Linked DNA regions of Homo sapiens. The protein of the gene in region 2 interacts with the protein of the main gene of each other region in a pairwise test. Each region holds a gene or a part of one and is shown on either strand. Other genes may lie near its edges. The genes, in order: PUM1, GPR37, ZFHX2 and SCAMP4.

The links.
Region 1: the proteins of GPR37 (region 2) and PUM1 interact in binary tests that used the Homo sapiens proteins (3 or more experiments, as listed by UniProt).
Region 3: the proteins of GPR37 (region 2) and ZFHX2 interact in binary tests that used the Homo sapiens proteins (3 or more experiments, as listed by UniProt).
Region 4: the proteins of GPR37 (region 2) and SCAMP4 interact in binary tests that used the Homo sapiens proteins (3 or more experiments, as listed by UniProt).

The regions. Positions count from the first base shown.
Region 1 is NC_000001.11:31,055,342-31,063,335, reverse strand, and holds part of PUM1 (pumilio homolog 1), read left to right. Parts: intron 1-3,758; 5' UTR 3,759-3,769; coding exon 3,770-4,132; intron 4,133-7,994. UniProt on the Homo sapiens protein: Sequence-specific RNA-binding protein that acts as a post-transcriptional repressor by binding the 3'-UTR of mRNA targets.
Region 2 is NC_000007.14:124,755,098-124,763,091, reverse strand, and holds part of GPR37 (prosaposin receptor GPR37 precursor), read left to right. Parts: intron 1-7,994.
Region 3 is NC_000014.9:23,526,998-23,534,991, reverse strand, and holds part of ZFHX2 (zinc finger homeobox protein 2), read left to right. Parts: coding exon 1-1,707; intron 1,708-1,907; coding exon 1,908-2,425; intron 2,426-2,619; exon of another isoform or gene 2,620-3,270; coding exon 3,271-3,511; exon of another isoform or gene 3,512-4,546; intron 4,547-4,797; coding exon 4,798-4,872; intron 4,873-4,907; exon of another isoform or gene 4,908-5,223; coding exon 5,224-5,282; coding exon of another isoform or gene 5,283-5,294; intron 5,295-5,327; exon of another isoform or gene 5,328-5,727; intron 5,728-6,277; exon of another isoform or gene 6,278-6,339; coding exon of another isoform or gene 6,340-6,363; intron 6,364-7,187; coding exon 7,188-7,388; intron 7,389-7,994. UniProt on the Homo sapiens protein: Transcriptional regulator that is critical for the regulation of pain perception and processing of noxious stimuli.
Region 4 is NC_000019.10:1,921,848-1,926,956, forward strand, and holds the end of SCAMP4 (secretory carrier-associated membrane protein 4), read left to right. Parts: intron 1-1,222; coding exon 1,223-1,340; intron 1,341-2,260; coding exon 2,261-2,437; 3' UTR 2,438-4,166; downstream 4,167-5,109. UniProt on the Homo sapiens protein: Probably involved in membrane protein trafficking.

The DNA.
Region 1 (7,994 bases), on a different chromosome or scaffold from region 2:
ACCAAAAACTTTTATATTTATCTCATTTTCATTAAGAAAAACCCAAAACATTGAGAGTCATAGAGGAAGGATTTCTTTCATTTTCTAGATGAGGAAACAGGTAGTTTTGTTTAGTGAAAGAACTTGGGTTTTGGAACTCTTGGCCTGCTCTAGAACAAAGATTGTTAGGTCGAGATTTCCTTTTAGAACAGAATGGGACTGTCTAGTATTAGTACTAAGAGAGTAATGAATTCTTTAAAAAACCAAGCAGGGAGGCATTAGGCTGGTTTGCACTTTTGAAAGACCGATGGTGAAACCGGGCTATGACTTTTTGGTTTTGGTACTTGAGCAGGGACTAGTGTCTAGGTTAGACTACTCCAGTACCCTGCTAAGGTTCTGATGGATTGGAATTCTTAACCTAGACTAGGCATTTCCAAATTAGGCTTTAAACAAATTACAAATTCCATTGTGTCTTCTTAGGCTGGCTTCAAAAACATGAATTTAGTTGTGAGAAGCAAATGCTACTTTATCAGAAGGTTTATTTATTCAACAGAGAGATAGTAGATTTGTTATTCATGTGTTTTTGAAGCATCACAGTGGGGGTTGGGAGAAGAGATAAAGCATTTGTAGCAGTAGACTGTTAGGCCGATGGCTTTGAAATTAGACCGTGGCTGTGGACAGGTGTGTCCTAATTGGTAACTGATTTATTTACTTTGTAGCTTTTTTTTTTTTTTTTTGAGATGGAGTCTCACTCTGTCGTCCAGGCTGGAGTGCAGTGCCTTGATCTCGGCTCACTGCAACCTCCGCCTCCTGGGTTCAAGCGATTCTTCTGCCTCAGTCTCCCGAGTAGCTGGGACTACAGGTGCGTGCCACCACACCTGGCTACTTTTTATATTTTTAGTAGAGACGGGGTTTCAGTATATTGGCCAGGCTGGTCTGGAATTCTGACCTGGAGATGCGCCTGCCTCCGCCTCCCAAAGTGCTGGGATTACAGGCGTAAGCCACCGTGTCCGGACACTTTGTAGCATTTTTTAAAAGCACCCACAGGCTGGCAAGTGTTCTATCTTAAGTACAGATGCAGTTTTTGGTTTTAAGGAACTTTAGTGTTTCATAGTAACATTTGAGGGATTCTTTGTTGGTCTTCCAGAGGAGTAGAGGATACAAATGAGACATATTGTTGAGTTACTCCTGCAAGGGGTTAGTAGAAAGAAGTAAGCTTGGGAACGATTAGGGTTTGAATCCTTTCTCTGCTACTTGCTAGTTGAATGGCCTTGGAAACATCCCATTTTCCTCCTGTACCTTAGTGTTTTCATTTGTAAAATAGAAATAATAATGGCTACCTTTCAATGCTTTTGTGATGAGACAATGTCTGCGATATATTCATTACACTATTACCGTGTTGAAGCTTCTGTTTGTTTGTTTGTTTTTGAGACAGGAACTCACTCTGTCGCCCAAGCGGGTGTGCAGCCTCCCGCTCCTGGGCTCAAATGATCCTCCCACCTCAGCCTCCCTAGTAGCTGGGACTATAGGCACATGCCACCATGCCTGGCTAATTATTTTTAGTAGAGATAGGTCTTGCTATGTTGCCCAGGCTGGTCTTGAACTCCTGGGCTCAAGCTGTCTGCCCACCTCAGCCTCCCAAAGTGCTGGGATTGTAGGTATGAGCCACCACACCCAACTGAGGCTTCTGGTTTGTATAGTGAGGCTTTCTTTTTTTTTTATAATTTAAAAAAATTATTTTATTTATTTATTTATTTTGAGACAGAGTCTCGCTCTGTCGCCCGGCTGGAGCACAGTGGTGCGACCTCTGCCTCCCTGGTTCAAGTGATTCTCCTGCCTCAGCCTCCCAAGTAGCTGGGATTACAGGCGCGTGCCACCAAGCCTGGCTAATTTCTGTGTTTTCAGTAGAGTCGGGGTTTCACCATGTTAGCCAGGATGGTCTTGATCTCCTGACCTCATGATCCACCCGCCTCGGCCTCCCAAAGTGCTGGGATTACAGGCATGAGCCACCGTGCCCAACCTCCATTGGCCTTCTTAGAGCCTTATTTTTTAATAAAATAATAGAGATGGGGGTCTCACTGTGTTGCCTAGGCTGGTCTTCAGCTCCTGGCTCAAGCGATTCTCCCTGCCTAAGTCTCCGAAGGTGCTGGGATGACAGGAGTGAGCCACTGTGCCCAGCCTGTAGTGAGGCTTTCTACACTAATATGAAGTGTTTAAATTTGGTTTGGTCTCATCCTGTTTATAGTAGTTGAAGTACTAATGGCATAATGTGATTACAGTTAATAGTTGTAAGTTACTGGTAAAAATATTAATGCTTTTAAAAATCAGTGACAACTGAGGAGAGGGCTTAGGCTAAAAGCATTCTGCTGCTGTTCTTGGTCAGAGGGTTTTATTGTTTCTTTAAGAAATATCCTATCAATATATTGGAGGTTTTATTTATTTATTTATTTATTATTTTTTTTTTTTTTACTGAAACAGAGTCTCGATTTGTCGCCCAGGCTGGAGTGCAGTGGTGCGATCTTGGCTCACTGCAACCTCTGCCTCCCGGGTTCAAACGATTCTCCTGCCTCAGCTTCCCAAGTAGTTGGGATTAAAAGTGTGTACCACCACACCCAGTTAATTTTTGTATTTCCAGTAGAGATGGGGTTTCATAATGTTGGCCAGGCTGGTCTCGAACTCCTGACCTCAAGTGATACACCTGCCTTGGCCTCCGAAGTGTTGGGATTATAGGCGTGAGCCACCTCGCCTGGCCAATATGTTGGACACTTTAAGGGATCCTTTCAAATTACACAATCTGAGCCATTGCTACTTATATATGGGTTTAGGCTTTTGTTTAGTTATTAGCATATGTCTGCTCCAGCTGTAAAGTTGTGATTGATTGATTGATTGATTTTTTGAGAGAGAGTCTCGCTCTGTCACCCAGGTTGGAGTACAGTGGCATGATCTCGGCTCACTGCAACCTTTGCCTTCTGGATTCAAGCCATTCTCCTGCCTCAGCCTCCCGAGTAGCTGGGATTACAGGTGCCCAGCACCATACCTGGCTAATTTTTATATTTTTAGTAGAGATGGGGTTTCACCATGTTGGCCAGGCTGGTCTTGAACTCCTGACGTCAGGTGATCCACCCACTTTGGCCTCCCAAAGTGCTGGGATTACAGGCATGAGCCACCACACCCGGCCGAAGTTGTGATAGTTTTAAAAAGGCTTTTGGGGCTGGGCGCGGTGGCTCACGCCTGTAATCCCAGCACTTCCGGAGGCCGAGGTGGGTAGATCACCTGAGGTCGGGAGTTCGAGACCAGCCTGGCCAACATGGTGAAACCCCGTCTTTACTAAAAATACAAAAAATTAGCCACCCGTGGTGGTGGGCGCCTGTAGTACCAGCTACTCAGGAGGCTGAGGCAGGAGAGTCGCTTGAGTCTAGGAGGCGGAGGCTGTAGTGAGCCGAGATCGCGTCATTGCACCCTAGCCTGGGCAACAGGGGCAAAACTCTTGTCTCAAAAAAAAAAAAGCTTTTGTTCATTTAAAAACTGTCAGTTGGTTTGAGGTATAAGTAAGTTGGGTAGACTGATAGAAGTCTAATTCTGTATTGCTATGTGTTGGTTAACAACATAAACTTCTCTGAAGTGGTAGTATTGAGTTCTGATCCCAATACCTTGCCAGAGTGCATGCCACCAACGACATTTATTTATTGTAAAAGACATGGGGTTCATGTTTTTATCTTAGTGTGTTTTATGTTTCAAAAGATGGAAATATTAAATATTTGTAACCTGTTTGTCCTTAGGTGTTGGTGGAATGAGCGTTGCATGTGTCTTGAAGAGAAAAGCAGTGCTTTGGCAGGACTCTTTCAGCCCCCACCTGAAACATCACCCTCAAGAACCAGCTAATCCCAACATGCCTGTTGTTTTGACATCTGGAACAGGGTCGCAAGCGCAGCCACAACCAGCTGCAAATCAGGCTCTTGCAGCTGGGACTCACTCCAGCCCTGTCCCAGGATCTATAGGAGTTGCAGGCCGTTCCCAGGACGACGCTATGGTGGACTACTTCTTTCAGAGGCAGCATGGTGAGCAGCTTGGGGGAGGAGGAAGTGGAGGAGGCGGCTATAATAATAGCAAACATCGATGGCCTACTGGGGATAACATTCATGCAGAACATCAGGTAAAAAAAAGTTCACTATTTTAGCTTTGACATTCCTTTATAATCACTGTCCACTTAGGATATCTGCTTTCAATGAATGTCTTTAAAAACTTAAATTGCTGATTTCATTTGGTACAAACAGTTACTTGTTATAAAGGTTGATCATTGTAATACTGTTACTGGGTCATTTATCATTCTGGTGCTAAATAGTAAATAGCCAATTCATTCATTCATTCATTCATTTGAGACAGAGTCTTGCTCTGTCACCCAGGCTGGAGTGTAGTCGCCTGATCTCGGCTTGATCTCGGCTCACTGCAGCTGCTGCCTCCCAGGTTCAAGCAGTTCTCCTGCCTCAGCCTCCTGAGTAGCTGGGACTACAGGTGTGCACCACCACGCCTGGCTGATTATGTATTTTCAGTAGAAACAGGGTTTCACCATGTTGTCCAGGCTGGCCTCGAACTCCTGACCTCAAGTGATCTGCCCGCTTCGGCCTCCCAAAGTGCTGGGATTACAGTTGTGAGCCACCCACGCCCGGCCTATAGAATGCATTTTTTTTTTTTTTTAAGACGGAGTCTCACTCTTTTGCCCAGGCTGGAGTGCACTGGCGCGATCTCTGCTCACTGCAAGCTCCGCCTCCCAGGTTCATGCCATTCTCCTGCCTCAGCCTCCCGAGTAGCTGGGACTACAGGTGCCCGCACCATGCCTGGCTAATTTTTTGTATTTTTTTTGGTAGAGACGGGGTTTCACTGTGTTAGCCAGGATGGTCTCTATCTCCTGACCTCGTGATCCACCCATCTCGGCCTCCCAAAGTGCTGGGATTACAGGCGTGAGCCACTGCGCCCGGCCTACAACGCATTTTTAAGAACACTTTTTTTGGAACAAAGGATTCTTTTTTTTACTGTTGACATAAGAACTGCTAGGGTTGTTTATAGGATAGATACATATTTTTGAATCTTTTCTCTTGGGTGTGGGTGACTTGATTTTAAGATGTTGTAGTTGAAAGTAGGGGGAAGTTGATAACATCAGCTGCTCAAGTGAAATTTATTTGAAATGGGACTGATATATTGTGTCAGAGAGAAGTGGTTGTGGCTTTTAGGTTTTAACCACCTTTGTCCTCTTGTTATTGTTTAATTTTTAATTTTAACATGTTCAGTCTTATTAATCTAAAACCATAGTGGGAATCATAGCATATTTTACTGAGAAGAGAGGTTAGCCTTATCCATGTTTCCTGATTTCTTGATAATGACCAACCAAAAGATTAGACTGTTTTGATCAGGGTATTCTTTGAAATTGGGTATAGGTTGAATTTGGAAAGGTTCATTTTGTGTCACCCGTCAGTACTGATTAGCGAGAACTGACATTTTTCATTAGGCTTCTAGTGCTTCTGTTTTACTTCAGAAAAAATCAGGTACAAACATACCTGCAAGTCTGATTTTATTATACTTCCTCTGATCCCCCCAAAAGTGAACCATAGTTGTTTTTTTTTTTTTTTTTTTTTTTGAGATGGAGTCTCGCTCTGTCGCCCAGGCTGGAGTGCAGTGGCACAATCTCGGCTCACTGCAACCTCCCCCTCCCAGGTTTAAGCAATTCTCCTGCCTTACCTTCCCGAGTAGCTGGGATTACAGGCACCCACCTCCATACCTGGCTAATTTTTGTATTTTTAGCAGAGAGAGGGTTTCACCATGTTGGCCGGGCTGGTCTTGAACTCCTGACCTCATGTGATCCACCTGCCTCAGCCTCCCAAAGTGCTGGGATTACGGGTGTGAGCCACCATGCCCAGCCCTTTTTTTTTTTTCTTTTTCTTTTTTTTTTTTTTTTTGAGACAAGGTCTGGCTCTGTCATCCAGGCTGGAGTGTGGTGATATGATGATATTGGCTCACTGCAACCACGGTCTCCCTGGTTCAAGCGATCCTCCCACCTCAGTCTCCTGAGTAGCTGGGACTACAGGTTTGCAACACTACACCCGGCTACTTTTGTATTTTTTGTAGAGACGGGGTTTTGCCATGTTGGCCAGGCTCTACTTTGAGCCCAGGCTCACAGTGATCCACCTGCCTTGGACTCCCAGAGTGCTGGGATTGCAAGTGTGAGCTACTGCATCTGACCAGTTCTTTACTATAGTCGAAACAAAGACAGGCTGGGTGCAGTGGCTCATGCCTGTAATCCCAGCACTTTGGGAGGCCGAGGTGGGTGGATCACCTGAGGTAAGGAGTTTGAGACCAGCCTGACCAACATGGTGAAACCCTGTCTCTACTAAAAATGCAGAAATTAGCCAGGCGTGGTGGCGCATGCTTGTAATCCCAGCTACTTGGAAGGCTGAGGCAGGAGAGTCACTTGAACCTGGGACAGGGAGTTTGCAGTGAGCTGAGATCTTGCCATTGCACTCCAGCCTAGGCAATGGGTGAAACTCCATCTCAAAAAATAAAGTAAAAAATTAGCTGGGCGTGGGGGCACATGCCTGTGTTTCCAGCTGCTTGGGAGCCTGAGGTGGAAGGATTGCTTGAGCGTGGGTGGCAGAAGTTGCAGTGAACAGAGATCATGCCACTGCACTTCAGCCTGGGCAACAGAGTGGGACCCTGTCTCAAAAAAAAAAAAAAAAAAAAAAAAAAAAAAAAAAAGAAAAGAAAAGGAAGGTTTTCAGCTGTAAGGCTGAAAGAAGGCTCACCCCTGCAATCTCAACACTTTGGGAGGTCAAGGCAGGTGGATCACCTGAGGTCAGGAGTTCAAGACCAGCCTGGCCAACATGGTGAAACCCCGTCTCTACTAATAATACAAAAAAATTAGCCTGGCATGGTGGTGCACACCTGTAATCCCAGCTCCTCGGGAGGCTGAGGCAGGAGAATCGCTTGAACCCGGGAGGTGGAGGTTGCAGTGAGCAGAGATCACACCATTGCACTCCAGCCTGAGTGACAAGAGCGAAACTCTGTCTCCAAAAAAAGAAAAAAGAAAGATTTTCTCTTTCTTTGGGATGAAGATATGCACAGAATTTGGTGATTGAATTAGAAATCTTATATCCTGGAAAGATGAAGTAATGGAGGAAAAGTACAGAGTGCCTCTGGTTTGGGACACAGTGATTACATTTGATAGGACACCTGTTGAGTTTGAGGTAGAAGCAGAATATCTGGGTGTATACTGTAGGCAGCTCTACCTGTAGCAGGAAATCAAGGTAGGAGGTATTTGATTTGGGTGGCATCTGTGTAGTGGGGCAAAAACAAACCCTGTAATCTCTGTACTATTTGGCTAAATGTTATTCAAAAATCATAAACATTGGTTTTTTAAAATCTGTAATAAAGATCTATAAGATCTTTTGTTGTGTTTCCTAATGATAGACTGATGGGTGGAAGCTGAAAGGAGAGTCAAGGTGCCTGGCAGGTTCTTTGCTAGGTGAGCAAATCAAACTCTAGGTCAGTCCTTGGCAGAGCTCTAAGATCTGATTATTGCTGTGCAAGTTAAGAAGCGTTTATTGAAGGCTTACTCAGGCCTCTGTCTTACACTGAGCCCTATCATAAGGAATCACATCTGACTTACTGAGCAGTTTTATCCAGGTCAGTTAGCAAACTTGAGTTAATAATAGTAAATGGCAAAACCTGTTTCCCACTCAGGTGGCCTAAACCAGTGACCTTGGAATTGGCATTCATCATTACAACACAATTCTTTGGGCTGGACGCATGAAATAATGAACAACGTTGGGGAACTCAGGGTAGTTGGTATATTGCAGTTGTGGACCACCCACAGGTTACTTTTCTGTAGTCATTATAGTGTATTGTACTGGTTTTAGTGTTGTTCTCACCTTCTGGACTGAACTATTCTAGATCAGAGACTTGTGTTTTTCATGCCCCTTTTCCAGGAGGTATTATGAAACTTTCGTGTTGATTGAATGAGGGAA
Region 2 (7,994 bases):
TGAAATTGCATTGTTTCATCCTACAGCTAGTGTCCTGGCCCACTATTGTGGTAGGTGGACTTTGCTCTTTAAATGGCCTCTCTTTAAACACCAGCTCTTGGAAGGGGCCCAACTGTTTTGCTGCCAGTTGTGTTTTTAGCCAGCTGGCCCTTGATTTTCTCCATTCAGACTGTCCATTTCATTTATGGAAGCAGAAGAAGGGAAACTGTAAATATTCCGCAGCCCCTGATCCTGTCTGGCACCAGGGCCTGTGACACTATGTTCAACATTGTTCCAGGCCTAAAGCTGGGGGATAAGTAAACAGAAAACAGTACCTACTTAGACGGACCAAAGCTGGAGACAGTAAATAAGACCCTCTGTTATCTTGACAGGGATCAGGTGCAGGATCATTCCATGACTATGAAATCAGCTGTTGCTGCTTTAGCAGCGTCCATGATTTCTCCTGTTGCCAAGCTTGGCGTATCTCTGAAACATCTACTTTGTTTGGTAGACAATTCATTTTTGAATTGTGAAGGAGCCAGTTGAACTCATGTTAGAGAATATGTGTCTATTTACCAAACTGCCTCTTCAAGGTCAGTTTCAAATTTCTTTTTTTCTTTTTTTTTTTTTATCAGAAGAAATTGACTTATGCAAGAAAGAGACAAAAGTATAAAGCGGACAAGAGAGGTACCTCAATGACAGAGAAGTGTATTGGCTTATCTCACTGGAAATGTACTGGACATGTAGAAATCTGTATACACTAGAGGGAAAAACAATAGGACAGAAAAAGGAAATTGGGGAAAGAAAAATAAAAACACCAAAGTTCTTGAAAGAACACCTTAAAAGAAAAGAATATCAAATTCAGGAAAGATTATAAAAACTTTGGTTAATTTAATGAGATATAAGCATTTTGAGCAATGGCATTTATTATGTACTTATTTTAATTTTCTTTTTCCGTAATTCTGAGTTTGTACAAATGTAATACTTTCTTTCATTTGTATTTCACTTTTTAATTTAATCAGCTCCTCCTTAAGAGTGCTTTGTTTTTTGCCTCTTATTATTAGTAAAATCTTTTACTTTCTGTATTTTTGCTTAACTTTTCCCCATCCTAGTAGCTTTCTCTATTTTTCAGTTATTAGTGCTAGCATTTATTTTTCTTAGAGAATCAAAGGCTTAAAAAATTCACTCATTTATTTTTTAAAATTACAGTATAATATACATTTTTACTGTTAAAATAGTGAATGAACATCTTAATATGTAGCATTTCTATATTTCTACCTAATCCTTATTACTCTGAAATAATTTTAGAATGGTTTATAAAAATAATTATTGGACAATATTGCTGGCTTCATAATTCCTGATTACTGAGAACAAGAACTACAGTCCAAATCTCAAAATAAAAGTGTGTCTCCAGGAGGCACTGATGTTTTCACAAAAGTAAGAGGTATTTAGGGTTTCTCCTACGTTGGGTTCCTGCAAAAACAGGCCCTGAGATGTAGATTTATTGGGGCATCAAGTTTATTGGGTTGTGCTCTCAGGTTCAACCTATTAAGGAAAGAAGAAAGCAGGATTGGGCGGGCAAAGGGAGAAGTTGAACTGTGATGCAATTGCCACAGAGACCTCAGCTGACACCATTAGGAGCTTTAGGGCTGGGATGGCCATGCAGCCATATCCCAAATTGAGGCAAGAGGGCTCAGCCTTTACATCTCTTTATGGACCAGTCATTAGATGTAAGACATTGGATGCAAGCCTGCTCCCAGGATGGGGTATAACCTTGAGTTGGGTGGATCTCTTTGGTCAAGGGCAATTCCTAGAGAGGGATGCAGCTAAGCACTGTCAACCAATAGCCCCAGCAGCTGGAGGAATCAGTGCTTCATTCTTGAAGGACTTTGGAGGGAGCTGTCTGGGTGGAAAACCACAGCATCCACTACAGTAGCTTTTTTTTTTTTTTTTTTTTTGAGACGGAGTCTTGCTCTGTCACCAGGCTGGAGTGCAGTGGCACGATCTCAGCTCACTGCAACCTCTGCTTCAGGGGTTCAAGCTATTCTGCCTCAGCCTCCCAAGTAACTGGGACTACGGGTGCGTGTCACCACACCCGGCTAATTTTTTTTGTATTTTTAGTAGAGATGGGCTTTCACCATGTTGGCCAGGATGGTCTTGATCTCCTGACCTTGTGATCTGCCCACCTCTGCGTCCCAAAGTTCTGGGATTACAGGCGTGAGCCACCACGCCCAGCTTACAGTAGCTTTTGAACAATCATGTTAAATCAGACATAGATAATGTTCTAATCCAACTCCCTCATTTTAAAGATGAAATTTGAAGCTCAGAGACTATCCTAAACATATATACCTGGTCAGTAGCCACCAGACCCTTGGTCTCAATGCTTCATGTTTATATTTGCTGATTAGACCAACCTGTATGAAGCACAAGCTTTATCCAGTGAGTGTTTTCTTTTCCTTTCCGCTCCTTGGCATCTGAAAAATTTTTTCTTTTTTTAATCCACTAGACAGGAAAAAATAAAAACCCGTAAACATCATTTGTTATATAATGAAATGTATAGCTTCTTTTGTTTCTCATAAACTGTCAGTAAGTTCTGCAATTGGTAGTTAATTAAAATTTTTTAAATTGCAGTAATCTGAGACAACTATACTTTTTAATTTGCCTAGCATGATGACTTTAATGACCAAAAAGTTATATAGGTTAAATTTTATGTTCTTAAAATCATGAAGTATGTTAGATTGGTGAAGGACATTACAAGTACATTACATTTGTTCAAACTTTCTCCAAATCCCCTTCCAAAATTTTGCCTCTGACCTCAAGACTTTTAAAAATTTTTTGACATCTTGTCTACTTTCATATTTCTAAATTTTGCCATTCCTTCACTTGTTACTTTCTTATTTTATTTCTTGGCTATTTTTCCTTTCTTTAACTATGTATAATACCTTCTTATAGATTTATGATGTAGCATTCACCATTTTCCAGTAAGATGTTTAACCTTTTTCAGTGTTTTTATTTTTAATTTTTTCGTAGTTAATTTTAAATTTTATTCTCAATAGATTATGATTGAATTTTATAATTTTTCTCTCCCAGCTTCTCTTTTGCTTTATTTTTCTTTTCTACCACAGTTCTTTCTCCTGTACAGCTTGAGCGTTAGCATAATCTGAAGGGAATCGTGGGATTTTGGGGAAGATTTGGGTTTGTGTAGAAAAATATGAGGTACTTCTTGAGTAAAAACTATACTTTTTCTAATTTTCATTCAACTCCTCTTTCTATTTTAATTTGTTGGCCTAAAGCTTGAGGATAGCACCCAGCTTCCAAGGTCTATTGTGAGAAAGGAAGTTTTATGATGTTTAATATTGCCGTGAGTGAGAATGTTCTGGGAACTGTTGTAGTTGATGACTTTTCCCTTTCTATTCCAGGATTATGACATCTTTATGGCCTAATAATAAATCTCATAAAGTCGAAGGACAAATGAAATGGTAGGAAATGCCAGATAGGAGAGAAGAAAATTTGGATAGATCATGGCCGTCCTCCTAGACACATCAGTTTAAAGTGGTTTATTACTTAGCCACAAGAAAAAAACTATACTCAAAACAAAACTTGTATATGTAGTGTGCTTTTATGTGTATTAGGGGAGGTGGAGATATGTGTGGGTGTGGATTGCAATAGGAGAATGGCAGAGGAGTTCTCTACCATACCTACCATTCACTTAGGAATCTAACAAGTGTTTAAAACCAAATAATTTGGGCCAGGTGTGGTGGCACACCCCTGTAATCTCAGCACTTTGGGAGGCCTATGCAGGCAGATTGCTTAAGCCCAGGAGTTCAAGATCAGCCTGGCCAACAGGGCGAAACTCCATCTTTACAAAAAATACAAAAATTAACGGGATGTGGTGGTGCATGCCTGTAGTCCCAACCATTCAGGAGGCTGGGGTAGGAGGATTTCTGGAGCCTTGGAGGTTGAAGCTGCAGTGATCCATGATCATGCCACTGCATTCCAGCCTAGGTGACAGAGTGGGACCCTGTCTCAAAAAAAAAAAAAAAAAATTCAAATAATTCAGACATCAAATATGGCAACTGGAATGAATCTTTGCTCATTATTTAATGGAAGTCAGAATCAAGGTATCATCTGACCGAGATCCCAGATAACAGATTAAGGTCTGTTTGGACATTAATTGGAGGTTTTGAATGATCGAGATTCTCTTTAGTTTAAAGAACCCACACCTTCATGGAGTGTTGTAGAACAGAAGGCTTCAAATAATTATAATGAGATAACCCCAGATCTAACTGTATTTTTATTTTACTGGGATAAAACTCCTGCACAGAGGTGGAGAGAGAATAAAGGGAACATGTCTTACCATGGCCTCTGGTCTGGGAATAATTTGTGACAAGTCTAGAATCTTTTCTAATGAGAGGAACCAGCTTCTCCAATGACTTTAGCAATACTGGTTTTAAGTTGAGTGGAACAAATGGCTCTTTCATTGCCTTAGATTGTAGCTAGCACTGACAAGAAAGAAAGGGTTTTTGGAGGTTGAAGATGACAGTGCCATACAACTATCTGAGTCTACACAGATTTCCCTAGAACGCCTGTATTCAAGTAATAGAACATTTATCATGGCATATGGTAAATTTTCTTTGAGAGGTGGATTAGTCATTAGGTATTCTGCCGGACTTTTAAGTGGAAACTTACTGTTTTATGAGCAATTTTAAAGTTACTAATAGTATTCTTAGGGAAAATGTGCTCAATATATGAGAATGGTGCTGAACAAATATTTTATGACTTCCCATTAATCTTTTAGTAATCATTTTATATATTCCCATGCAAATGAAAATATTTAGCTGATGACTCTAACAGGAAGAAAAGTGTTTCTTAGAGTGCACTTTTATTTATAACTCCATTTCTGAATGGTGTATGGTGAAGTTAACTGAATTTGGATCTTCCACAAGAAAGAAAAGTTTTATAATATTCAAATAAGAAATCCAAATAGTTTCCTTTTCCATTGATCATAATGAGAATGTGTCCTTTTCTAAAGCTTGTCAATGAAGTATAAATAGGAAAATTGATTTTTTAACTTCCCTTCTATAGATATTGTCTGGCATTCAGCTTTTAAGGATTATATATAAAACAGCAGCACCCAATAACTGATTAAAGAACAATTTGAATAATTTATTATTTTCTGTAATCCTTTTCCATAGGTGTCATCATTCGTTCATTTGTTCACCATTCATTGATTTATCAAATGTTTACCTGGCTTTTCTTCTATGCGAGGTACTATTAGGAGTGGGCAGGAGAAGGCAATACAGGAAGAGGGGGAAAAGTTTCCAAAGATGAATATCATAGATGAGCCACTGCCATTAAAATTACAGAAAAGTAAAGTAATGTTCTACACCATGATGAATATTATAATAGAGGTTTGAACAAAGCATCGTGGAAGCTCAGAAATGGCACTGAAATGGGTCAAGTCACAGTTGTGCTTGTTATGACCAGAGATGGAGAAATTAAAGGGAAAACTGTGCTCCCTCTAATTCTTTTCAGTTACATTCTTACTATTAATCTTCATAAATTTCATAAATGCCTATACAGCCTAGATCCATGATGAAAAGTTACAAATGTGAAAATCTTTTAATTCTTGCTTTTTTGTTTCCTTTAGCTTTCCCAGGATAGAAAGTCCATAATAATAATTGGCAAAATAATTCAGCAAATAGTTCAGTTCTAGAAATTTCTTTTAAAATATGGAATTTGTGCCAGTGCCTAGGATATCTATCTCTGCTTTACAATTAGTCCTTATTAGCTATAAGGACACTAAATACGTCAAAATTAAACATTTTATTTAAATGAATGGCTTATTTGGCAATGTAATAACAGTATATTAAATTGAGTCCTTTTCTTCTGAAAAAATCAAAACATATACAAATTGTTTAACTTGACCTTGGAGAACCTAAGAAAGAAGATGGACAAGGGCGATACTTTAGACTCCATTGTGGAGTCGAGGAAAGGGGAGCACGATGAATGGACTTTCTCAAGAATTGGATTAATCTCTCAAGCACATAATCAGAGTGAAGATTTATTCTGAGCTCCTGAGGGCTCCCAAGGTATCCTGCCATGTCAGCAAAGTATCCTTCCACAGAGACAAGGAGGCAAATGTGTCTGCAGAAGTAAAACAGATATGAGCTTATAAGTTTACCGAAGGCTGAGTGGGTGAGGGTCTACCTTTGCTTTCATATTTAGGCTGCATGGACCTTGATACAATTTTTACACCTTTAATGGCATTCGTCTTATGTGCGGCAACCTTTTAACAGTATCCCATTGGAAGCACATGGACCTGTGTCTGGGATGTAGATTGTGGGAGAGGGATGGGAAGGCAGCTATGCAGTGCAGTTTGTCTCTGCCTCTGCACTTCTGCTCCATCCTCCAGGGATGCGCCTGTCATTTCACTTCCCATGAATTGACCTGCCAAGGTCCAATAATGAACTCAACCTTGTTGCCAAGACTAACTCTTAAATATCCTAATTGGAATAATACTCTTTGTGCCAGAAGAGATGATCTCATCCAAAATTTCAGAGTGGAGTTGAGAATGGGATTACTGCAACGTCAAATATGGAGGGTCTTTTTTTATTTGCAGAGTAAGTGTAGGTACTTTTCATAAACTTCCATAAAACGCAGGATATGATCACTGTGTCAGTCTTGTTCTTGAGACAGAATACTTTCCATTTGTGAATTTGTAATAGTTTTCAGTGTTATCTGTCTGTACACTTGAATAGTTCATAGCATTCATTAATGAGGCCAAGGTCATTGATTTGATCCCTGCCTAGAATGAGACATTCTTATTAGGTCTGTGACTCTATTCAGGGATGTTACTTTTTTCTTTTTTTCTGTCAAAATAGCCCCTTCCTCATCAATTCCCATCTTCAGGGCCTATCTTTACTATTGTCTTCCTAATTCAAATCCTTTTTATATCGGAAAAGCATCTGATAAGCCAATTCGCATCAAGATATGCAATTTAGAAATAACTGCCTTTTATAAGAAGATTGAATCAAGAAAGAAATTTCCTTAACAGACTACCAATAGTGAAATTTTGGTTAAAAGCAGATAAATTCTGTCCTAAAATATGGTTTCTCAATTTTATTAAAATCATGATGACCTAACTATACATAATTTTGTTTTTAGTTTGAGTTCACAGTCATGCAAATCAATATCATTAGTCAGAAAGGGAAATAGGTAAAAATGTGTTACTGCTTTTTGGAAACTCATCAGAACCCCAAGGTAAGGAACTGAAATTCCAGGTCACTTTAAGATTGACTAGGAACATCATAATAATACCAAAGATTGAGAACTGGACTGTGGGCTTGGGGGAAATATTACATTTTGAAATGATTTTGTAATTACTGAGAATAAACATGGAATCTTTAGAATCTAACATAGATGGTTTATATCTTAAGACAAAATGTTGCTAATCTTGCTTCATTTACATTTTTATTTTAATAAACACCTGACAGATTGATAGGAATTATAACATGTTAGGTTGTAGTTAAATGAATTTTTTTAACCATATAAGGAATGTACTGTGCTATAGACATCATAATTGGTAACAAACCTTAATTCAAGATAGGACTATAAAGGAAAAGAGGATTTATGGAATCAAGACAAGTTTTGGGAGAATATGTTGATTTTTAAATAGTCTTAAACGGCTTTTAAAATAAGGAAAGCGTGGTATCAAGCTTAGGCAAAAGAAGAGAAGGTGGAGAATGAGGCAGTAAGGACAGTTGATAGTTGATGCTTTCAAAATATTTTTCCCCCACGGCATTGGGAATCACATGTAAATGGAATAGTCTGAGTATATTAGAAATAAATGGTTATTTATTATATGTGGGCATATCAGACTAAATATCAGTTGATAAGGATAAGAAGTCTTCTCTTTGACTGTGGAACAGTGGCTGCCAGAGCTCTGTTTCATTCCAGAGAGTGCACAAGCAGTGTGTGCATGAATGTAAGGGGTGAGGAAAGTCTCTCCTTCT
Region 3 (7,994 bases), on a different chromosome or scaffold from region 2:
ACCACTTATTCTTCACAGCTGGAGGTGAGGCCTACCTAGTGGCCAAGCTGTCCCTGCCAGGTGGCAGTGAACTCCTGTTACCAAAGGGCTTCCCCTGGGGTGAGGCGGGCATCAAGGAAGAGCCCAGTCTGCCCTTCCTTGCCTACCCACCCCCCTCACACCTCACTGCCCTTCACATCCAACATGGCTTTGACCCAATCCAAGGCTTTAGCTCTTCTGACCAAATTCTGTCCCATGATACCTCAGCACCATCTCCGGCTGCCTGTGAGGAAAGGCATGGAGCTTTCTGGAGCTACCAGCTGGCTCCAAATCCACCCGGAGATCCCAAAGATGGCCCCATGGGGAACAGCGGGGGCAACCACGTGGCGGTCTTCTGGCTCTGCCTTCTGTGCCGCCTGGGTTTCAGCAAGCCCCAGGCCTTTATGGATCACACACAGTCTCATGGGGTGAAGCTAACCCCTGCCCAATATCAGGGCCTGTCAGGTAGCCCAGCTGTACTCCAGGAGGGAGATGAAGGCTGCAAGGCCCTCATAAGCTTTCTGGAGCCAAAACTCCCTGCTCGCCCCTCTTCTGACATACCCCTTGACAACAGCAGCACAGTGAACATGGAGGCGAATGTGGCCCAGACAGAGGATGGCCCCCCTGAGGCAGAAGTCCAGGCCCTTATCCTCCTGGATGAAGAAGTTATGGCCCTCAGCCCACCCTCTCCACCCACAGCCACCTGGGACCCCAGCCCAACCCAAGCCAAAGAATCGCCAGTAGCAGCAGGCGAGGCAGGGCCAGATTGGTTCCCTGAGGGGCAAGAAGAGGATGGAGGGCTCTGCCCCCCACTCAACCAAAGCTCACCCACCTCCAAGGAGGGGGGCACTCTCCCTGCCCCAGTGGGCTCCCCCGAAGACCCCAGTGACCCACCCCAGCCCTATCGCCTAGCTGATGACTACACCCCAGCCCCTGCAGCCTTCCAGGGCCTCAGCCTGTCCAGCCACATGTCCCTGCTCCACTCACGCAACTCCTGCAAGACACTCAAGTGTCCCAAGTGCAACTGGCACTACAAGTACCAGCAGACCCTGGATGTGCACATGCGAGAGAAGCACCCTGAGAGCAACAGTCACTGCAGCTACTGCAGTGCTGGGGGCGCCCACCCCCGCCTTGCTCGTGGAGAGAGCTACAACTGTGGCTACAAACCCTACCGCTGTGACGTCTGCAACTACTCTACAACCACCAAAGGCAACCTCAGCATCCATATGCAGTCTGACAAGCACCTGGCCAACCTACAGGGCTTCCAGGCGGGCCCTGGTGGGCAGGGAAGTCCACCAGAGGCATCACTCCCACCCTCCGCGGGAGACAAAGAGCCTAAGACCAAATCATCCTGGCAGTGCAAGGTGTGCAGCTACGAGACAAACATCTCCCGTAACCTGCGCATCCATATGACCTCTGAGAAGCACATGCAGAATGTCCTAATGCTGCACCAGGGGCTGCCGCTGGGCCTGCCACCTGGATTGATGGGGCCAGGCCCTCCTCCCCCACCAGGGGCTACCCCCACTAGCCCCCCTGAACTCTTCCAGTACTTTGGGCCCCAGGCCCTAGGGCAGCCTCAGACTCCCTTGGCTGGCCCGGGGCTGAGGCCAGACAAGCCCCTGGAAGCCCAGCTACTTCTCAATGGTTTCCACCACGTAGGAGCACCTGCCCGCAAGTTCCCCACATCCGGTAAGCTTCTGTGCTTCTTCCCTCTTCTCTCCTCCCCAGGGCCAAACTCTATTCCGTGCTTTCTCCCAAGGACCAACTCCCCACTTAGGTAACCATAAGTCCCTCTGAGCACTATCCTACTCATTAACCCACCTCCCCACATAGAGAACCAACCGTGCCCCATTTCTTTCTTGGGCCACTAATCTGTCTCTGTCCTCTAGCCCCTGGAAGCCTATCCCCTGATGCCCACCTGCCTCCAAGTCAGCTCCTGGGTTCCTCATCTGACAGCCTGCCCACCTCACCACCCCCAGACGACAGCCTGTCCCTGAAGGTGTTCCGCTGCCTAGTGTGCCAGGCCTTCAGCACAGACAGCCTGGAGCTGCTGCTCTACCACTGCAGCATAGGCCGGAGCCTCCCGGAAGCTGAATGGAAGGAGGTGGCTGGTGACACCCACCGCTGCAAGCTTTGCTGCTATGGCACCCAGCTCAAGGCCAACTTCCAACTCCACCTCAAGACTGACAAACATGCTCAGAAGTACCAGCTGGCAGCCCACCTGCGGGAGGGGGGTGGAGCCATGGGCACCCCTTCCCCAGCATCCCTGGGAGATGGGGCTCCTTATGGGTCTGTCTCCCCACTACACCTGCGCTGCAACATCTGTGACTTTGAGTCCAACAGCAAGGAGAAGATGCAGCTGCATGCCAGGGGTGCAGCCCACGAAGAAAACAGCCAAATCTATAAGGTGAGGCTGGGTCAGGAAGGGCCATCGGAAGAGGAGAAGGGAATGGGGACAGAGGGAGGAGATGCAGAATAAGAAAGTGATAGGAAAACCCTGGGTGACAAATGGAGAAAAAGGAAAGTATGCACCAGGTAATGACATATGTACCAGGGTAACAAAGTGACAGACATGGAGAAAGAGACCAAAGGATAGTAAACTCTGACAAGTGAAACAGACTTTATTCAGCTCTTCTGGTGTTTGGCCCTGGAGGGAGGGGTGGTATCAGCTCAGTTTGTCATGTCACCAGAGGTTCAAGAGGATGGAACCAGACTCCATTTGCATGCTGGGAGGGAGTCCAGGAGTGGTAGGAGAAAGAGAAAGGGTTGGGGAGAGCAAGCAATAATACTTAGGTGGCCATAGGAGGGAAAGGGGGGGTTTCAGGAGCAGGAAGCGAGGGGTGGGGAGGGGGCTGCTGCTAGTCAGTCTCCCTTAGGGAAGGCAAAGAAGTCCCCTGAGGCTAGGTGCGGTGGCTCACGCCTGTAGTCCCGGCACTTTGGGAGGCCGAGGCGGGAGGATCACTTGAAGTCAGGAGTTCGAGACCAGCCTGGCCAACATGGTGAAACCCCATCTGTACTAAAAATACAAAAATTAGCCAGGTGTGGTGCGCATGCCTGTAATCCCAGCTACTCGGGAGGCTGAGGCATGAGAATCACTGAACCCAGGAGGTAGAGGCTTCAGTGAGTAGAGATCATGCCACTGCACTCCAGCCTGGGCAACAGGGCAAGACTCTCTCTAGAAAAAAAAAAAAAGTCCCCTGAGGTCTGGCATGTCCCTTCTGGGCCTGAGCCAGCCTCTTCCCATGGTTCTAGTTTCTGCTGGACATGGAGGGAGCGGAGGCAGGGGCAGAGCTGGGGCTATACCACTGCCTGTTGTGTGCGTGGGAGACACCCTCCCGCTTGGCTGTGCTGCAACACCTGCGCACACCTGCCCACCGCGATGCCCAGGCCCAGAGGCGTCTGCAGCTGCTACAGAATGGCCCAACCACTGAGGAAGGACTCGCAGCTCTTCAGAGCATCCTGAGCTTCAGCCACGGGCAGCTCCGGACTCCCGGTGAGGAAGAAGGGACTGGAGAATAAGAGCTGGGCAGGGAGGGCAGCAGGATGTGGGGAGCAGGGGGGCTGCGGAGTTAGAGATACAAGGAAGGCGAAGAGGGCCTGTAGGCCACCTATACTAAATGGGAAGAAGCTGCGAAGGGATAAGACAGAATGAGCGTGTCAGGCACTGTGGAGGCTACCTTGAGTGGAGGGGCAAAGAAGGGCAGGGGCTTTGCTGGGTGGATGACATAGAACAGGAAGAGGGTGAAGAGGAACCACCCAGTGATTCTGAGTAGTGACTAGTGTCCTGGTAATGCTGGAGGGTGGCAGGCTGGAGCTGGGTAGGAAGGAGAGAGAACCTGTTTTGTGCTGGGCCAGGGCTTCTTGGAAGGAGATAGGAGCTGTGGGCATGATCCAAAGGCAGCAGGGATGGGAAGAGGCCCCTGACAAGCTTCCCAGCCTCTTCCTGTCTCCTAGGAGGTCTTCAGCCCTAAGGCTGGGCTTAGAGTCACCCTTAGGCAGCTGAGGTTGTACCAGCAGAGGCCGGGAACAGCCAGCCAGGCACCATTGATCCAGAGGGTACAGGAGAAGAGCCTGCAAGGGGCTGCCAGAGGTGGGCATGGGCGTCGGGCTTTGCAGAGCCAGTGGTGGGCAAGGGCGAGGGCATGGGCAGCAGGAGCCAGGAACACGCAGCATTGACTGGTGCTAATTGAATTGCCAATATGCTGGCTGGAGTTAAGTGCCGGAGGGGCCCAGATCAATAGCTAACGATCCTGGCGCAGGGCTGAATGGAGTTAAGGAACTTTAACACTTTAATTAGGCTGCCACCGAAAATAAATTCCTACACATCTGTCAATTCTTACTTGAGCGGTAATCTCCTCTTCCAGCTAGACCTGCCACTTCCTGCTCACTGCAGCAGCTGCTTCCATTCAGCCAAGGCTTCCTTCTTCAGTGCCCCTCCTACTACATTTCTCTGGGGCTTCCCATTTCCTGGGTCATTTAAGACAGGGAGCTGAGTTTGGTCTTGTTTCTGCTGTCTACTGCTGGACTTCTATAAAAGGACAGGAACTGGACTCTTAATAAAATGATCTCTTAGGCCCTACCAGTTCTAATACTGTAATTTTCCCTCTATCTTCTGTGTGGGTGTTTCTTTTTGTTGGCTTTTCATACTCTCCTACCTGCTGATTGAGCCATCCATTTTCTCCTTCATTGACTGGCTGCTTGTCCTGCTTCCTCTGTCCTATGTCCTCCCTTCCCTGATGCCACACCTCTTTAAGCTGACTCTCCCCCCATCCTACACAGGGAAGGCTCCTGTCACCCCCTTAGCTGAGCCACCCACCCCTGAGAAAGATGCCCAGAACAAGACAGAACAATTGGGTGAGTTTTCCCTCCCTTCCCCCCAGTCCTCCTACCTTCTGAGACGCTCACGGGACCTTGCAGTAATCCAGGAGCCCAGCAATGTCTGTGCTCAAGGAGCAAAACTGATTAAAGAAAGGGCTCATCAGGGGGAAGGGAGGCTGAGCCACGAGAGGCTAGGCACTTCCGCCCTCTTTGAGAACTCAGACCTGACCATCCTACTGACCCGGAGTCAGCCCTTGCCAAGCCTCACCTATCTACTGAGTTTCCTGCCCTTTCTCTAGTGCCCAACTCCCTACCCTGGAAGCTCTCTGCTACAAATCATCTTGAGGGCTGTCAGGGTTCCTTAATCTCCTCTTCTTTCATCCTCAGCTTCAGAAGAGACAGAAAACAAGACTGGCCCTTCCAGAGACAGTGCCAACCAGACCACGGTCAGAATTGGGGTAACTGGGAAGAGCTGAAGTGGGGGCCTGGCTTTACTGAGATCTGCTCATATTCTAAAGGCAGACGTAATTTTGTCATGCTTTGACTTATTTCACTCAGAATAGCACAGTTAAGAAATTCCACCCAGATCCAGTTCCACATGTTCAGCACTTTCGGGGGCAGAGCTGGCCCAGCAGGGTCAAGCACAGAGGGAGATGATAGGAGGGAGACAGCAGGAACTTGAGGGAAAGATGAATAAAGGAATTGTGCTGAGAGTAGGAAAGAGTGGGGGTACATGCTGGAAGGAGGGGAGGAGAAAGGCAAAAGCAAACAACCAGCTACTGCCCAGCTCTTTATCCCTTAGTTAGGAGCAGAAAGACAAGACACCGGTGTTCCTACCCTACAAAACGCCCTGAGCCTGGATGGAACTGTCCTGGCATCCTCTTACTAAGGGTAGGGGCACCAACCAAATGATTCACACTGACAGCATGTGCCACAAATCTCTAAATCCCCAGGACTCAGACCTAGGCAGCACCCAGGAATGGCAGCTCTGTGTTCTGAGGGGATTCCCAGCCTCTGGTTTGAGATGCCATCCTGTGCCTCACAGCTCTCCAAACTGGACTACAATATGTAACATTTATTGTTATTGCAATACGCAGTGTTACTGCATTACTGCAAGCTGAAGTAATGCCTTATGTCCTCAGCATCTTTTCTTCCTAACTCCTGCTCCCGCCAACAGACCTCTTCCAGATGTCTGCTCCAGGGGCTAGGTGCGTTAAGATGAGCATCTGGATCCCCTTCCTTTACAGTCATCCCCTCCCTGACACACAGGCCTGTGCCACTGGTGCCAGCCTGGATGCAGGCTGGGTAGGTCTGGCAGTCAGGTGATGGTGGGGCCTCTGGCAGCCTCACCCCTCTGGAAGTGTGGCTGAGAATGTGCTGAGAGGGCTGGGCCAGAATTTTCCTGGGCCACTGGGGGAGCTGTGGTGTTTATTCACATTAGGAAAAAGAAGAAGGAAAAAGAAAGATGGAAAATAAGGTGGGAGCTGCTGAGCCTGAGGGAGGATGAGCTGGCTTCTGAGCAGACAGGTAGGGCCCCTTTCCAGGTGATGGTTCACAGAGGCAGAGTGGGCAGGGACAAGGGAGCCTCTGGGTCCAGAAAATGCCCAGAGGAAATGGAACCATTTCACAGAGAAGACACGACAGGATAGGATAGGTAAGAGAAGAAAACTAAATCCAAGGTGGGGGCAGTAGGTACAGAGCCATCTGTTAGCTGGAGAGTTGAGGCAGGCAGCAAAGACTGGGAAAGACACACCAAGAAAAGGCAGAGAGGCCAGGATGGTGGAAGAGGGCCAGACAAAGAAGGAGTGCAAGGTAGCGGCCTAAGCTAGGCCTTTGTCCCAATCCAAGGGAAAGTGGGGAGGAGCCAGCTCTCAGGACTGTGGCTGGAGGCTGGGTCTGCTATAATGCCTTCCTATCTGGCTAGTTCCTCTTCAATTAGGAGTGAGAGGCCAAGCGTGGTGGCTCACGCCTGTAATCCCAGCACTTTGGGAAGCCAAGATGAGTAGATCACCTGGCATCAGGAGTTCAAGACCAACCTGGCCAATGTGGCAAAACCCTGTCTCCACTAAAAAATACAAAAATTAGCTGGGCGTGGTTGCACACGCCTGTAATCCCAGCTGCTTGGGAGGCTGAGGGCAGGAGAATTGCTTGAACCTGGAAGGCGGAGGTTGCAGTGAGCCGAGATCACGTCACTGCACTCCGGCCTGGGTGACAGAGCCAGACTCCATCTAAAAAAAAAAAAAAAAAAAAAAAAGGAGTGGGGGCGGGCCAGTGCTGCATCCAAAGGACTATGTGATGGTGGGTCCCATCCTTCCCTGACACTTCGTCCACTGCCCATATGTTCCCTCCAGGTATACTGCTGTCCATACTGCAGCTTCCTGAGCCCAGAGTCCAGCCAGGTGAGGGCTCATACACTCTCCCAGCATGCAGTGCAGCCCAAGTACAGATGCCCACTGTGCCAGGAACAGCTGGTGGGCCGGCCTGCCCTGCACTTCCACCTTAGCCACCTTCACAACGTGGTGCCCGAGTGCGTTGAGAAGCTGCTGCTTGTAGTGAGTACAGGCTGGGTGAGGACGGTACAACAAGACCTTATTAGGGCTGTGCAGGAGGGGAGGAAGAGGCAGGGGTATTCAGGCAGGTGCATGTGTTGGGGGCAGGGGGCATTCAGGCAAGTGCGTGTGTTGGCTGGGTGAGGACGGTCCGACAAGGCCTTGTTAGGGCCATCCAGGAGGGGAGGAAGAGGCAGGAGTATTCAGGCAAGTGCATGTGTTGGCAACAAAAGCAGCATTTCATGGATTTGAAGTTGGATTTTAGAGAGGGAGACTCAGAACTGAGCTTGTCTAGCTGCCTCTACTTAAGAGATGAGGCAGAGGCTTCTGTTTCACCTCCACTAAGTCCTGAGAAGAGTTGTTGAACAGCAGGTACCAGCCTGCCAGACCAGGTAGCCTCAAAGAATGATGACTTCTGGTTTGGGGAAAGAGGAAGCCAGATAGGAGAGGTAGCAGCCCAGGCTCTCTCATCTGTAGCAAAAGCAGCAATTAGGTGGGAGGTTTGTTCAGACAGGAGGCTGGATCTGTGGCAAGGGATCTCGGCACAAGTACAGGTGTAGGGCAGATGGGTCAGGAGTGGCATAGGGGCAGTGGGGGGTGGTGGTGAAG
Region 4 (5,109 bases), on a different chromosome or scaffold from region 2:
AGACCATGCAGCCTGTGATGCTGTGGAGGCTCCAAGCAGGCGAACACAGGACAGGCCAGCATCTTGCAGGGACGCGGCGGGGGGTACCGCGTGTGCGTGCATATCACGCCCCGTGCATGTGTGTGCATAAGCTCCCCGGACACATCCGGGGGTGTGGGTCCTGCGGGCTGCCTGTGCACCAGGGAGGGGAGTCAGCAGGAGAGAGACTGTACGTCGTGCCTGCCTTTAAGTTCCCTGAATTTTAAACCCTGTGGTTTCATCACCTGTTAAGACAAAAATCTCAAAATGACTGTTTTCTGCCTCCTGGGTCTCAAAGGCAGGTGCAATGCCCAGAGGCTGGTCCTGCACAGAGGGACCCAGGGCGTGCTGGCCTTCCCAGTGTCCCACTGGTGGCTGATCTAAGCAGTGCTTTCCCTCGTTTTTTTATTTTGAGACAGAATCTTGCTCTGTCCCCCAGGCTGGAGAGCAACGGCACGATCTCGGCTCACTGCAGCCTCCCGCTTCAGCCTCCCAGATAGCTGGGATTACAGGCATGCGCCCTCATGCCTGGCTAATTTTTGTATTTTTAGTAGAGACGGGGTTTCACCTTGTTGGTCAGGCTGGTCTCCAGTTCCTGGCCTCAAGTGATCCGCCCGCCTCGGCCTCCCAAAGTGCTGGGACGACAGGCGTAAGCCTCTGCGCCCGGCCTCCTCATTGTTTCTAATGGTCCCTCAGTGCCCACCGGGTGATGGTGGCAGATTTTCCATCCGCATTGCTCCCGGACATGCGGATGTAGGTTTCAGCAGTTCCCATCATTAGACACAGTTGCCGTAGGCTGGGTTCTTAGTAGCAGGCTCAGTGGGGCCTTTGAGTCTTTCCATGGCTGGTGCCCGCCGGACTCACTGAGGGAAACTAATGGGGAAGCACTGGTCTCCATTCCCTGCACGCACAGCCCACTGCTGCGATGGTGAAGGGATAAGGTTGTGTTCACGCGTCGAAGTTTGTGTCCACTGCACACGCGGCTCACTGCTGCGATGGTGGAGGGATAAGGTCGTATTCACGCGTTGAAGTTGGTGCCTCTCAGTATCGCTTTATGTTTGTTGGCCACTTGGTCGTCCTTGTATGAGCTGTCCACTCCTTGTTGATTGGCCAGAGCTCTTTACATGGGGAGGACCATGGGCCGGACCATGGGCCCTCATCCAGCAGGTGTGCAGGCACCCACGCACTCTCTTGTCCCTTGCAGCGGCTGGCTGTCGGCAATTGGATTCTTCCAGTACAGCCCGGGCGCTGCCGTGGTCATGCTGCTTCCAGCCATCATGTTCTCCGTGTCGGCTGCCATGATGGCCATCGCGATCATGAAGGTGAGTCCTCGGCTTTGTGACGTCCAGCCCTTACCCCTTCTCCATGAACCTCGTCACCCAACTGTCCCAGGTGGGTGAACGTCGAGGAGCCGGGCCCTCTCCCCACGGTGTCACGCAGGCCGCACTTCATCCCCAGCAGTGAGCTGGGATGACAGCAGGAGGCACTGTCACCAGGGACACTCCCAGGGACCCAGCGCCTGGGTTCCTATGGGGCCAGTCCTGTGGCCCCCTGGGCCGGGAGTCCAGACTCCAGAGGGAAGCAGGGGTTGTGTGTAAACCGCAGTGTTTGCAGGAACAGCTGAGGCCCTGGAGCTGTCCTGTCAGTGAGGGTGGGGCCCCTTGCAGGTTCCCGGTCACAGTTTCCATCTGAAGATAGCGGAAGTGTTGAGCTGGGCTCATAACAGAAACTTTCAGTTACAGCAAAATGCTTTTTTTTTTTTTTTTTTTTTTAGACAGAGTCTCGCTCTGTCACCCAGGCTGGAGTGTAGTGGTGCGATCTCTGCTCACTGCAAGCTCCGCCTCTGGGGTTCATGCCATTCTCCTGCCTCAGCCTCCCGAGTAGCTGGGACTACAGGCGCCCGCTACCGCACCTGGCTAATTATTTTGTTTTTGTATTTTTGGTAGAGACAGGTTTTCACCGTGTTAGCCAGGATGGTCTCAATCTCCTGACCTCGTGATCCTCCCGCCTCGGCCTCCCGAAGTGCTGGGATGACAGGCGTGAGCCACCGTGCCCGGCCTATTTTTTATATTGTAGTAGAGACAGGGTTTCACCATGTTGTTTGGACTGGTCTCGAACTCCAGAGCTCAGACAGTCTGTCTGCCTCGGCCTCCCGAAGTGCTGGGATGACAGGCGTGAGTCCCCGTGCCCGGCCGCCATGCTCATTTTCTGTCTTCTGCCTCCCTGTCCTCTGTCCTTGCAGGTGCACAGGATCTACCGAGGGGCTGGCGGAAGCTTCCAGAAGGCACAGACGGAGTGGAACACGGGCACTTGGCGGAACCCACCGTCGAGGGAGGCCCAGTACAACAACTTCTCAGGCAACAGCCTGCCCGAGTACCCCACTGTGCCCAGCTACCCGGGCAGTGGCCAGTGGCCTTAGAGGGAGCCTGCCCTGCCCCCACCGCCCACCACCTCCTCCCCTTCATTCCTGCTGCTACCCCTGGTCCCGAGGGCTGGGAGTACCTGGGGCCCCATCCCCCCAGCTGGGATGGTGGAAGCCGGTGGTGGCCACGGACCGCCCCCCTCCTGCCAGGGCCACAGAACCCGTGTTCATCTCATCCGAGAGCGGAGTTCCTCACAAGCACTCCCCAGCAGCCCTTGGCCTCTGCCGTCCACAGGACGCCCTCTTGCTCCCGGAAACGTGTGGTCACCCGCCGTCCACTGCACGGCTGGTACGGCCTTGTCTTCAGGTCTCGAGGCCTGACTCCGGGGGACAGGTGGCAGCAGGTCGGCCGCCCTCCCGTCCTCCCAGAGCTGCTGGCGCTGAGGTCAGAGCGGGTCTGATGGGGAGCTCCGTCTCACCGGCCACCCGCCGTCACCATGGCAGATGCCCTTGGCCGGAACTAATAAGAGGCGTCGGGGCCAGCTTCCGGTCCCCTGCAGTGATAGAGGGCTTGGTGCCTAGCTGAGTCCTCGCTGTCCCCGCCATCCCCTGATCTGTGCGGCTCCAGCCTCGCCCCCTCCCCACGTGCACCATACCTGGGGAGTTCCTGGTCCAGGGTATCCTGGGGCCACCCTCCCTGCCTCCAAAACAGGGATCCCTGGCAGGCTGTCTTTCCACGCCCCTGAGTTCAGAGTCGGGGACCCAGGCCAGGTCGGGAGCACAGCCGCTCCCCAAACCCAGCAAACCGGCAGAGAGCCGGTTTCCCAGCAGCCGGAGCCCTGCAGGAGAGGCCTTTGTGTTTTGTTTTGTTTTGTTTTTTCTCTTTTGAGACAAGAGTTTCACTCTGTCGCCCAGGCTGGAGTGCAGTGGTGTGATCTCGGCTCACTGCAACCTCTGCCTCCCGTGTTCAAGCAGTTCTCCTGCCTCAGCCTCCCAAATAGCTGGGATTACAGTTGCCTGCCACCACGCCCAGCTAATTTTTATATTTTTAGTACAGATGGGGTTTCACCATGTTGGCCAGGCTGGTCTCGAACTCCTGACCTCAAGTGATCCACCCGCCTTGGCCTCCCAAAGTGCTGGGATAATAGGTGTCAGCCACCGCGCCCAGCCTGGAGTGGCCTTTTATGAGAGGGGACCCGTCAAATCTGTGCCTTATGGAGGGGTCCGGCAGCGGCCACAATTGTCTTGTCCCCTCACCCCCCAACTCCCCCTGGAACACCTCTCCCAGGCAAGACATTTTCACAGCACCATTCACAACGGTTGGGCCAAAAAGAAACTTTTCCTTCATCATTTCCTGCACTCGCTGACCACAACTTTGGACACCCCAGGCTGCCACCCCTCCCCACCCGTTCACCCCCAGGATGCTGTTGCTGTAGGACGCCTGCTGCCCTGGAGCCCTCCCCAGGATGTGAGCCAGTCCCCTCGCTGGTACGGAATGCCGCTGGGTGCCCGGAGGCGGCCATGGTGTCTCGATGGACGGCAGCCAGGATGGAGCACCCATGGGTCTCACGGCCATGCTTCAGGGTCTTCAGGTCCTGCCCCCGGCCAGTCTGCCAAGAGGCACCCCCTTCCCCAGCCTCTCGCCTGCACTGATGCAGACAAAATCTCACCTGGCAGGCCCAACCCCCCCCCACCCCTCCCCCGCCGTGTGTGGCCCCTCGCCGCATCGTTGGGGTTTTGTTATGTGAAAATATCCTGGAAATAAATACATGTTTCTGCACTTAGAGCCAGGGACCTGCCGCGTTTGTGCTGTGAGCATGTGTGGTTCCCCCAGGCCGTCTTCTCCCTTGGGAGACCCCTCAGCATATGGCCTCTGGCAGGATGCCCCCCTGCAGCGCCTCCTCCCACCCAGGCCCCGGGTGCCCTGTAGCCAGGTGTGCCCAGGGCTGACCCTGCCATCCTGGCCAACGTGGTGAAACCCGGCCTCTACTAAAAATACAAAAATTAGCCGGGCGCGGTGGCGGGTGCCTGTAGTTCTAGCTACTCAGGAGGCTGAGGCAGGAGAATTGCTTGAACCCGGGAGGCGGAGGTTGCCGTGAACCCAGATCGCGCCACTGCACTCCCCACCGGCTCAAAAAAAAAGGAAACTTGCACAGATGGAAAGCCAGTGTCACTGGCCCTACGTAAAAAGCAAACATCGGCCAGACGCAGTGGCTCACGCCTGTAATCCCAGCACGTTGGGAGGCCGAGGTGGGCGGATCATCTGAGGTCAGGGGTTCAAGACCAGTCTGGCCAACATAGTGAAACTCTGTCTCTACTGAAAACACAAAAAATTAGCTGGGCGTGGTGGCACACGCCTGTAATCCCAGCTACTCGGGAGGCTGAGGCAGGAGAATCGCTTGAACCTGGGAGGCAGAGGTTGCACTAAGCCAAGATTGCACCATTGCACTCCAGCCTGGGTGACAGAGTGAGACTCTGGAGAGAAAAAAAGGGGGGTTGTGGGGTGTGGTGGCTCACACCTGTAATACCAGCACTTTGGGAGGCCGAGGCAGGCAGATCACCCAAGGTCAGGAGTTCAAAACCAGCCTGGCCCACATGGTGAAACCCTGTCTCTACTAGAAATACAAAAATTAGCCAGGTGTGGTGGCAGGTGCCTGTAATCCCAGCTACTTGGGAGGCTGAGGCAGAAGAATCAGTTGAACCTGGGAGGCAGAGGTTGCTGTGAGCCA